Linked DNA regions of Homo sapiens: region 1 is linked to region 2. The links come from fine-mapping of genetic effects on gene expression. A gene starts in region 2. The other region holds a variant in brackets. All regions are shown on one strand. Distances are from middle to middle.

Region 1 (4,412 bases), 50 kb after region 2:
TCCATTTCAAATACAAAGACTTGGAATTTTAGTAGTAGAGGAACCTGTTAAAGACATTTGGCTTCATTTCCATTTTACAAACAAGAAAACTGAGGCATATGGATATTTAATGATGTGCCTAAGGTCAAACAGCCAGAATGGTAGAGGTAGGACTATACTCTGGTCCAGCTACAACTGCTACATGAGTCTTCTAGGAAGGTAAGACCCACATGTTTATAATGCTGACCACCACAAAAGAAAGAATGACAGCTGCTCTCGAGTCAAGCTTGTACTTCAGAGAAAACTAGAGCCAGAAATTGAGAGTAGGAGACTACTGACTAAAATAATGTCATTCATTCCATTATTCTGGCATATTCTGCTCCTTTAAACATCAAAACAATGATATCTTGGTTGGTGTAATATGGTTATTTCATAATTTTGAAAATATTCAGCATTAAAAATTTTAGCAAATGTGTAATCACTTATAGAATGTTTATACTTCCAGAATCCTCAACTAGGACAATGGAAAAAACTAGCTTTTGTTAGAAAAATTTACACAAGAGAAATCTGAACATGTAAATTTGGAAATTAATATATGGAACTAAGAATCTCAATACAAGATAAAACATTTTTAACAGAAATGCTTTTTTGACACAAAAATTACAGCTCTCAATAAAAAAGTGCAACTTCCTTTAAAAAGTTTTTCAAATAATCAACTCAAAGTTCTTGAGTTACATGGATTATGTGATTATGTGAAGACCAAAGAATCAGCAAAAGATCTGGTTCGTGTTTTATAACTCTTGTCATTATTCCTTCTATTATAGGACTAGATCTTTTCCATCAATTGGAAAAATCTGGATGAAATTATTTCTGCACTTAATGGTATCGTTAACATATTTTATCATTAAAATACTTTAAAAATTATAAATTTTATTTAACACATAACTAAGTCTGTTATGCTTTAGTCTGCTGTTTGAATGTTACATTTCATGTGCTAATTTGTTTGAATTATACTGTAATATTTTTATACATTTTCACTTGATGCTTTGTAATTATTTAAAATTATAAGGAATTACATGAAATAGTGGTATTGTCATTTTGCTGTGGTACTGAAAACACTGAGGTGAACTAACAGTCTCATTTCTGCTTTATTTCCCTAGATCTACTGTAACCAGATAATCGCCCTTTGTTATGTGCCCATGGCAGGCAGTACAACAAGTATAAATTACACAGAACTTAAAATTCCCTCATTTAATTTCACTGAACAGGAGGACAAACTTTCCCCTTTACCGTTTCAGATGCACTAAAAGCACAGGTGGTAACTTCCAGATTTCTATCTTTTTTAGAGAATCCCGTCGAGCTCTGCAATGACTGCAGTAAAATCTGTTGTTATCTGTGAGTTTTTCTTCTTTGGAAAATAATCTAAGGCAATCCTGGCAGAAAAAAACAAGTAGCAGATACTCGTTAATTCGATTCTTCAATAATGTCAGAGAGCACCTATTTAGTTAGTCACTCTGCAGGCACCAGTGATTCAACAGCAATCTACACAAAAGAGTTCCTGCCTTCCCAAAGCTTGTGATCTAGTGAGAAGCATAGACAAGTGAACAATGACAGCACAGAGTGTGGTGAGTGCTACCTACAGTGTGTTGTGACAGGACACAGGAAAGCCCCTAACCTGGTCAATCAGAGAAACCCTGTTGGAGGAAATGACATTCTGGAGGTACTTTAAGACTAAAGGTATCAACAAGCTTTTATATAAGAAACATTGTTGATACATGGAAAACAGGATATTTATTTGATATCCCCATGTAAAGCAAATGCTTATGAAAAGTAGGCCTAAGTTAGTCAACAGACAACTTTCCAAATTAACTTATAAAACTTTTTAAAAACATACTAACAATCCTGAAATCCTGAAAGAATATTTAATAAAGGTATCTTTAAAAAAGAAATTTCTAATTCTTTCTAATCTACATAGGCCTAATTATAAAACAGAATTTATATTGAGTTTTACTGATAA[A/C]AGGTTTTTTTTTTTTTTTTTTTTAAGACGGAGTCTTGTTCTGTCCCCTAGGCTGGAGTGCAGTGGCGAGATCTCAGCTCACTGTAAACTCCGCCTCCAGGGTTCACGCCATTCTCCTGCCTCAGCCTCCTGAGTAGCGGGGACTACAGGTGCCCACCACCACGCCCGGCTAATTTTTTGTATTTTTAGTAGAGATGGGGTTTCACCGTGTTATCCAGGATGGTCTCGATCTCCTGACCTCGTGATCCGCCCACCTCGGCCTCCCAAAGTGCTGGGAGTACAAGGTATGAGCCACTGCGCCCGGCCGAGTTTTACTGATAAAATGTTTGTAAGGGTAAAGACCAGAAATTTACATCTCTATATCCATAAAAACAGCATTTTTATCCAATAAATCATTTTCTCTCTACTTCTTAAACTTACCTGTAATGTACATTTACTTGTGGATGCTAGTGGTAGAGACAAATACATGAAGGCCTCAAATGTCCTAGACTTTTTGTGACATGTGAGGCACTGTACTGTAGATTTGAATTGACCCTGAAAAAGTGCAACAATAATAGACTCATTGAGCTGCTTGTGTTTCTGCCAGGCATGTTCTGCAGCTTTAAAGTCATCGAGATGATCATTATTTTCTTCTTTATATCTCTTCCGATTATCAGCCTGGAAATAAAATGATTTAAGCTCTATATTAATATCTCAAAGAAAACATTTAAATTGAAAGAATAAAAGTGAATACAAACACTTGCCAGATTTAGAAACACCTGTAGTTCTCATAAAGGAGTTCTGATCTCACTGAGTGTGGCAAAAAATAATTCTAGCCAAAAATACCAAAAAAAACTCACTCACTTTATTGAAGGAATGTGACTTGTTGAAATTTCCCAAATTTTTATTTAAAAAGCTGAAAAGGGCCAGATGTGGTGGTTCATGCTTGTAATCCCAGCATTCTGGGAAGCCAAGGCAGGAGGACTGCTTGGGGCCAGGAGTTCGAGACCAACTTGTGCAACATAGTGAGACCCCCCCCTCCAATCTCTACTAAAAAAAGAAAAAGCTAAAAAGTTTGGTTTTTAGAAAAGATATCCCACATATAGCTGGGAATTAGGGCTACAACTGGACATATATAATTTTGTTGCCCTAGCCTCTCTCTCTCTATATATGTATATATGTATGTGTATATATATGTGTATATATGTATGTATATATACACGTATATATGTATATATGTATGTGTATATATATGTGTATATATGTATGTATATATACACGTATATATATATACACAAATATTTTTGTGTAGGTGTGTGTGTATATATATATATATCTGTTCAGTGGTTAAGAATGGTGACCCCAAAATATGTGAGACAAAAAGTGCTAAAAAGAAGTTGTAGTATGTAAATGGAGGGTGGTCATTTATGTATACATACATGCCTTTATAATAACTAGTCACATGAGTCATTTGGTTACATGGAGTAATTTTTTTTTTTTTTTTTTTTAGAAAGAGTCTCACTCTGTCGCCCAGGCTGGAGTGCAGTGGTCACTGCAATCTCGGCTCACTGCAACTTCTGCCTCCCAGGTTCAAGCGATTCTCCTGCTTCAGCCACCTGAGTAGCTGGGATTACAGGCACATGCCACTACACCCAGCCAATTTTTGTATTTTTAGTAGAGACGAGGTTTTGCCATGTTGGCCAGGCTGGGCTCAAACTCCTGACCTCAGGTGATCCACCAGCCTTGGCCTCCCAAAGTACTGGGATTACAGGCATAAGCCACTGTGCCCAGCCAAGTAATTCTTATTTTAGAAGGATGTGTAAGAATAAAGGCATGTTCCACTTTCAGCAAGGGACTGGGAAAAAGAAAAGAATAAGGATATGTACAATAACATATACATATTATATAAACATAACATACAATAAAAATGCTCAAACTGTCTATAATCTTTTATAAGATCATTTGTTTATGATTTTACTTTCACATACATGTGGGTCACAAACGCCAATAACTATTTTAACATTTGCAAATTTCTCAGCAATACTGCTTGTTAATTAGTAAATACCAACTGTATATGCTTCAAATATTACACTTACCTGATGTTTTATAATTCTCTTATACAGTCACTATTTGAATAAACAAGCACTGAACTATCACCAACTAGAATTTTAAACTGCTATAAAAATACAGTGCTACTGAGCAACCCTAAAGAGTCTCTGCAACTTAGAAAAATCAAATTTCTTACTTTATTTAGATCTTCATGGAGACCATCCATTAGGAACAGAAGCAATTCTTGTGAATCTTGCTGACTGTATCCTGCAAACTGGTCATTGATCTTCCCAATGGTGATTTTAAAGTCCTTTGGACTGATATATCTATACTGTCCTGTCCACAGGGCTTTCATGATTATACCAAATTCTTCTGCCACTTCACCTTT
Region 2 (4,412 bases):
CCAGCCCCATGTCTGGTTTTAAACTAAGCTTAGTAGTTTGTTATAGAGCACAGAATATTAACACATAGATAATCTAACTCATGAACATAGATACAAAACCCTTGAACAAAAAGATTAACAACTAGAACCCAACAATTCACGAAAATAATAACTACAGCTCAAACAAAATATACCTGAGGAATAGAAGATTAATATGTGACCATCATTGATAATGAACAACAATAACAGAATAAGAAAGAAAATCTCATGATTACCTCAATAAATACAGAGAAATCTGGTCATACTCACTATCCATTCATGATTACAACTCTTCAATACTATGTCTGCAAACATCATACTTAATGGTGAATTATCCAAAGCTTTCTCTCTGAGTTAAGCAATTAGCTATCTCCACTTCTATTCACTATTTTACTATGTTCACAATTTTTCACTATTTTCACTATTTTACTGGCAGTCCTCACTAGTAAAGAAGAAGTAAGACTCAGAAAAAAATTAAACTGATTTTGTTGCAGACAACTTGAATGTGTTTATAAAAAATCCAAAGAACCTATGTAAAAATTAGACTTAAGTAAGTCAAGTTAGGCCATACTCAGGGGCTCACATCTGTAATCCTAGCACTTTGGGAGGGTGAGGTGGGAGGATTGCTTGAGCCCATGAGTTCGAGACCAGCCTGGGCAACATAGCGAGACCCTGTCTCTATTTAAATAAAAATTAAAAAATTAAAGAGTAAGTCAGGTTAGAAAGGTTCCTGGATAGACAACCAACATATGACAAATAATTGTATTTTTACCTACCAGCATCAAACACAAAATGAAACTTTTAAAAGACCCTATTGATTAGGAGAAAATGAAGGACTTGGGAGAGCCTCACTGACAAATAGAGCAAGTTTACAGGATTTAAGTCCTGCAGAACCACCACTGAGGTGACTTGGAGAGATACCTCTGTAAATACATCGCAAATATCAAATACCTGCAAGAGAGGACAGCTCTACTTGCCAGGATTCCTTATCCAGGTGTCAAAGAATGAATATTCTAAATATCTTCGTGTAGCCTGAGCATATATGTGGGTTTTTTTTAACCATTTAGACATAAGTTGGGGTGCATACTATGGATTCCTCAACACCTTGCTTTTTTTGACTTACCAGTCATATATCTGGAGAGAAATCCATTTTAGCAAAAAATATGTGTAATATATTCTTTCTTTTTAATTTTTTTTTTCTTTTTTTGAGACCGAGTCTTCGCTTTGTTGCCCAGGCTGGAGTGCAGTGGCGCGATCTCGGCTCACGGCAAGCTCCGCCTCCCGGGTTCACGTCATTCTTCTGCCTCAGTTTCCCGAGTAGCTGGGACTACAGGCGCCCGCCACCACGCCCAGTTAATTGTATTTTTAGTAGAGATGGGGTTTCACCGTGTTAGCCAGGATGGTCTCTGTCTCCTGACCTCGTGATCCTCCCGCCTCAGCCTCCCAAAGTGCTGGGATTACAGGCGTGAGCCGATGCGCCCGGCCTCTTTTTAATTTTTTAAACTTGCAGAAGAGTTGCAAGAATAGTGCTCTTTAGTGGGCCTTCACTCGGAATCACCAACTGCTGGCGTGTGGGTGCACTGGCTTTATAGTATGTGCTTTATCAGTCCCCTTCCTTCCTGTCCTCCTGTCCCTGTGTGCTTCCTGAACCGTTTGAAAATAGGTTGCATATATCATGCCCCTGTGCCCCGAAAAACTTCAGTGTGTATTTTCTAAGAACAAGGGCATCCCCTTGCATAAACACAGTACAATCTTATCAAATTCAGAAGATTCAACATTAATAGAAAAAACTATCTGCATATTATCCATATTCAAATTTCATCAATCGTTCCCATAATGTTCTTTTATGGCAATTTTTTTTTTCTGATCCGGTATTCAGTCCGGATAGATCTAGCTCCTGAATAGAAGTGGAAATCCTCGCTCCCCGGGGTGAGGAAATTCCCTCAGGGCTCCTAGGTGTGGTGTAGTCGCTGGGAAGGGGGAATGAGTGCCCAGAGCAGGCAGGGTTGCCGTAGTGTCCACTAACTCAGTGGCGGTAAATTTTTGTGCACATGTTAAGTGTGTGTGTGTGTATGTGTAATATATATATACACAAGAGAAACTGAGTGATGGAAGAAGGAAGAGAGGTTATATGTGTAGTTCATTCTCTGGAGCCTAATCTTTCTAAAACATTTCAGACAACCCAGTAACAGTGTCTCATGGCAACATGATAGAATCTTGAAGGTGAATGGAAAGGATTATGATGTACGGAAAATCCAAGTTGGAGTGGTGCCTGATACAGGTGAAAATCAGTTCGCAGCTACTGGAAGAGAGAGGAGCATATCAATTGTTTAAAACAAAAAGCCAGCGTTAACAGGCTCAGAGAAATGAAGTTGAAAGGAATAGATGTAGCTCCTGAATAGAAGCAAAAGTCCAACGTGGTTCCATTAAAATGACTTCTCAGCCGTCTCTCCCTGCAGATGACTTCGATATCTACCACGTCCTGTGAGCCTTGATCTACTACAGCTTTCTAGATTAGCCCAGTGGTGGGAAAGTCAAGCTCAGAGGAGTCAGGGGACACACACTGCATTCAGGAGGGTTCTCCCAGGTGTGACCCATGGAAGGTCCCCGGAAAGGAAGGAAGATTGTACCTAATATCTTGGCAATAAATACATGTCCTTCCTAAAGGGTGACAGTCTAGGACCTCCTGTGGTATCAGTGAGTAAAAGTGAAAATGACCATGCTTATAACAGTGAACACTTTTCAAACTGGCATAACTGTACTTAAAAGTATGTATGAGGTAAGGTCACTGTCTCATGGAGCCCCAACTTTAGATACAATATATGGAAAGAAAAATCCGAGAGGACATAGATACCAGGCTGCCTGGCACAATACAAAAAATTGTAAGAGGAAGCTCTGTGCAGGGAGAGGAGGTCCCGTTTGGAACCCTCAGTGTTCTCTCTGTGCAGGCAGGTCTGGGCAATTCACATGAACACTCTAATCCTGTAGCTTACTGGGAAGGACATCCTAGATCAATCACTTAAAAAAATTTTTCAGTTGTCATTTAGACGAACCTGTGTCAAGTAGCTTGCATGATACCTGCATAATCCTCACAACCATCCTATCAGGCAGATGATATTATTCCTATTTTATAGATGAGAAACGGACATAGAATCCCAGATCCTATAATTAATAAACGGCATAGTTGGGATTTAAACTAAGATCTATATTTTTACAAAGTCTGTGCTCTTTCTCCTCTCCGTGTATATGTGTGTGTGTGTGTTTATATGTATATAGCTATATACATACACATATACACATATGTGTGCTCTTAAGATATATATATTCATGCTCTTAATGTGCATATATTATGCCTTCAATATATATGCCATACATACATATATATACAAATATATACATATATATCACATATATAGAGACAATCTTAATATATATAGACAATCTTAATATATGTAAATCCAAATATCTTAATGGATAGGTATGTTGGGAGAGAGGGAGGGAGGTAAACAGATAGGTGGATATTCCTTTTTTTACATACCACCACACACCCCATGAGTAAATGACTACATCATTTAAACCTGACATCTCATCTGTAAAATGGGATGTAAAAATAATCGTTCCTGCCTTACACAATTGTTGAAAGATTTAATGGGAAAATGCATGTTAAGTACTTAAATAGTGCCAGGCTCACTACCTGATAGCTATTGTTTTATTAACTATTAATAATAATAATAATAATTTAATTACTTGCCCAGCAAGTTGTCAGTTGTCTTGCTTTAGTTTTAGAAGGAAATTTTTATCTGTCTTATTTGGCTTCAGGTACTTGTTCACAGTTCTGGTCTAAGTTATGTAATTTTGTTTTTAATTTAATTTATTTATGTAATAGAGACAAGATCTCACTATGTTACCCTGGCTGGTCTCAAACTCCTGGCCTCAAGCAATCCTCCCACCTCGGCCTCCCAAAGGGCTGGGATTACAGGTGTGAGCCACTATGCTCTGCCATAATACAATTTTAGACTCCAAGTTCCAATACTTCCTGTCCTTGGTAGGGAATGTGTTTGGAGGAAGTCTTATTAAGAACTCTTCTTTATTTCATAATATTAAGAGAAGCTTATTGTCATTTGTACATATTTTGTTCTCTCAAAACCCTTTCTTCCCATGTGGCACCAACACAGTGCAGAGTGCACAGATTACTATGATACCCTTCCAGTTAAGGAGGCTGATGGGAACCAGCCCCATTTTCAGGGTGTCACTGGCTTGTGGAACTTGGGCAACACATGCTGCGTGAATGCCATCTCACAGTGTCTCTGCAGCATCTTGCCGCTGGTGGAATACTTTCTCACCGGGAAGTATATCACCGCTCTGCAAAAGTAAGACCATTTGCATTCCCTGCA

Direction of the effects. Positions count from the first base shown, and alleles are read on the strand shown. Sizes are in standard deviations (SD) of each study's normalised expression.
With allele A in place of C in region 1, the expression in subcutaneous fat of the gene that starts at base 2,309 in region 2 is lower (small effect, 0.19 SD a copy in GTEx).

Evidence for each region. PIP is the estimated chance that this variant, and not a neighbour inherited with it, causes the effect.
Region 1: its variant is the best candidate, but not a certain one, in a credible set for the expression of USP50 in subcutaneous fat (GTEx, PIP 0.83).

What each region holds. Positions count from the first base shown.
Region 1 is chr15:50,494,089-50,498,500 of GRCh38, reverse strand. It overlaps USP8 (ubiquitin specific peptidase 8), which reads right to left. Exons shown (of 20, transcript NM_005154.5): 16 at 4,221-4,412; 17 at 2,417-2,653; 18 at 1,270-1,412. It also overlaps a transcript of USP50 not described here. Among named protein-coding and RNA genes, the nearest start is that of USP50, 50 kb to the left of the region's middle. The variant A/C (reference allele first, on the strand shown) is at 1,997.
Region 2 is chr15:50,544,563-50,548,974 of GRCh38, reverse strand. It overlaps USP50 (ubiquitin specific peptidase 50), which reads left to right and starts at 2,309. Exons shown (of 7, transcript NM_203494.5): 1 at 2,309-2,502; 2 at 4,194-4,388. The coding sequence starts at 2,450.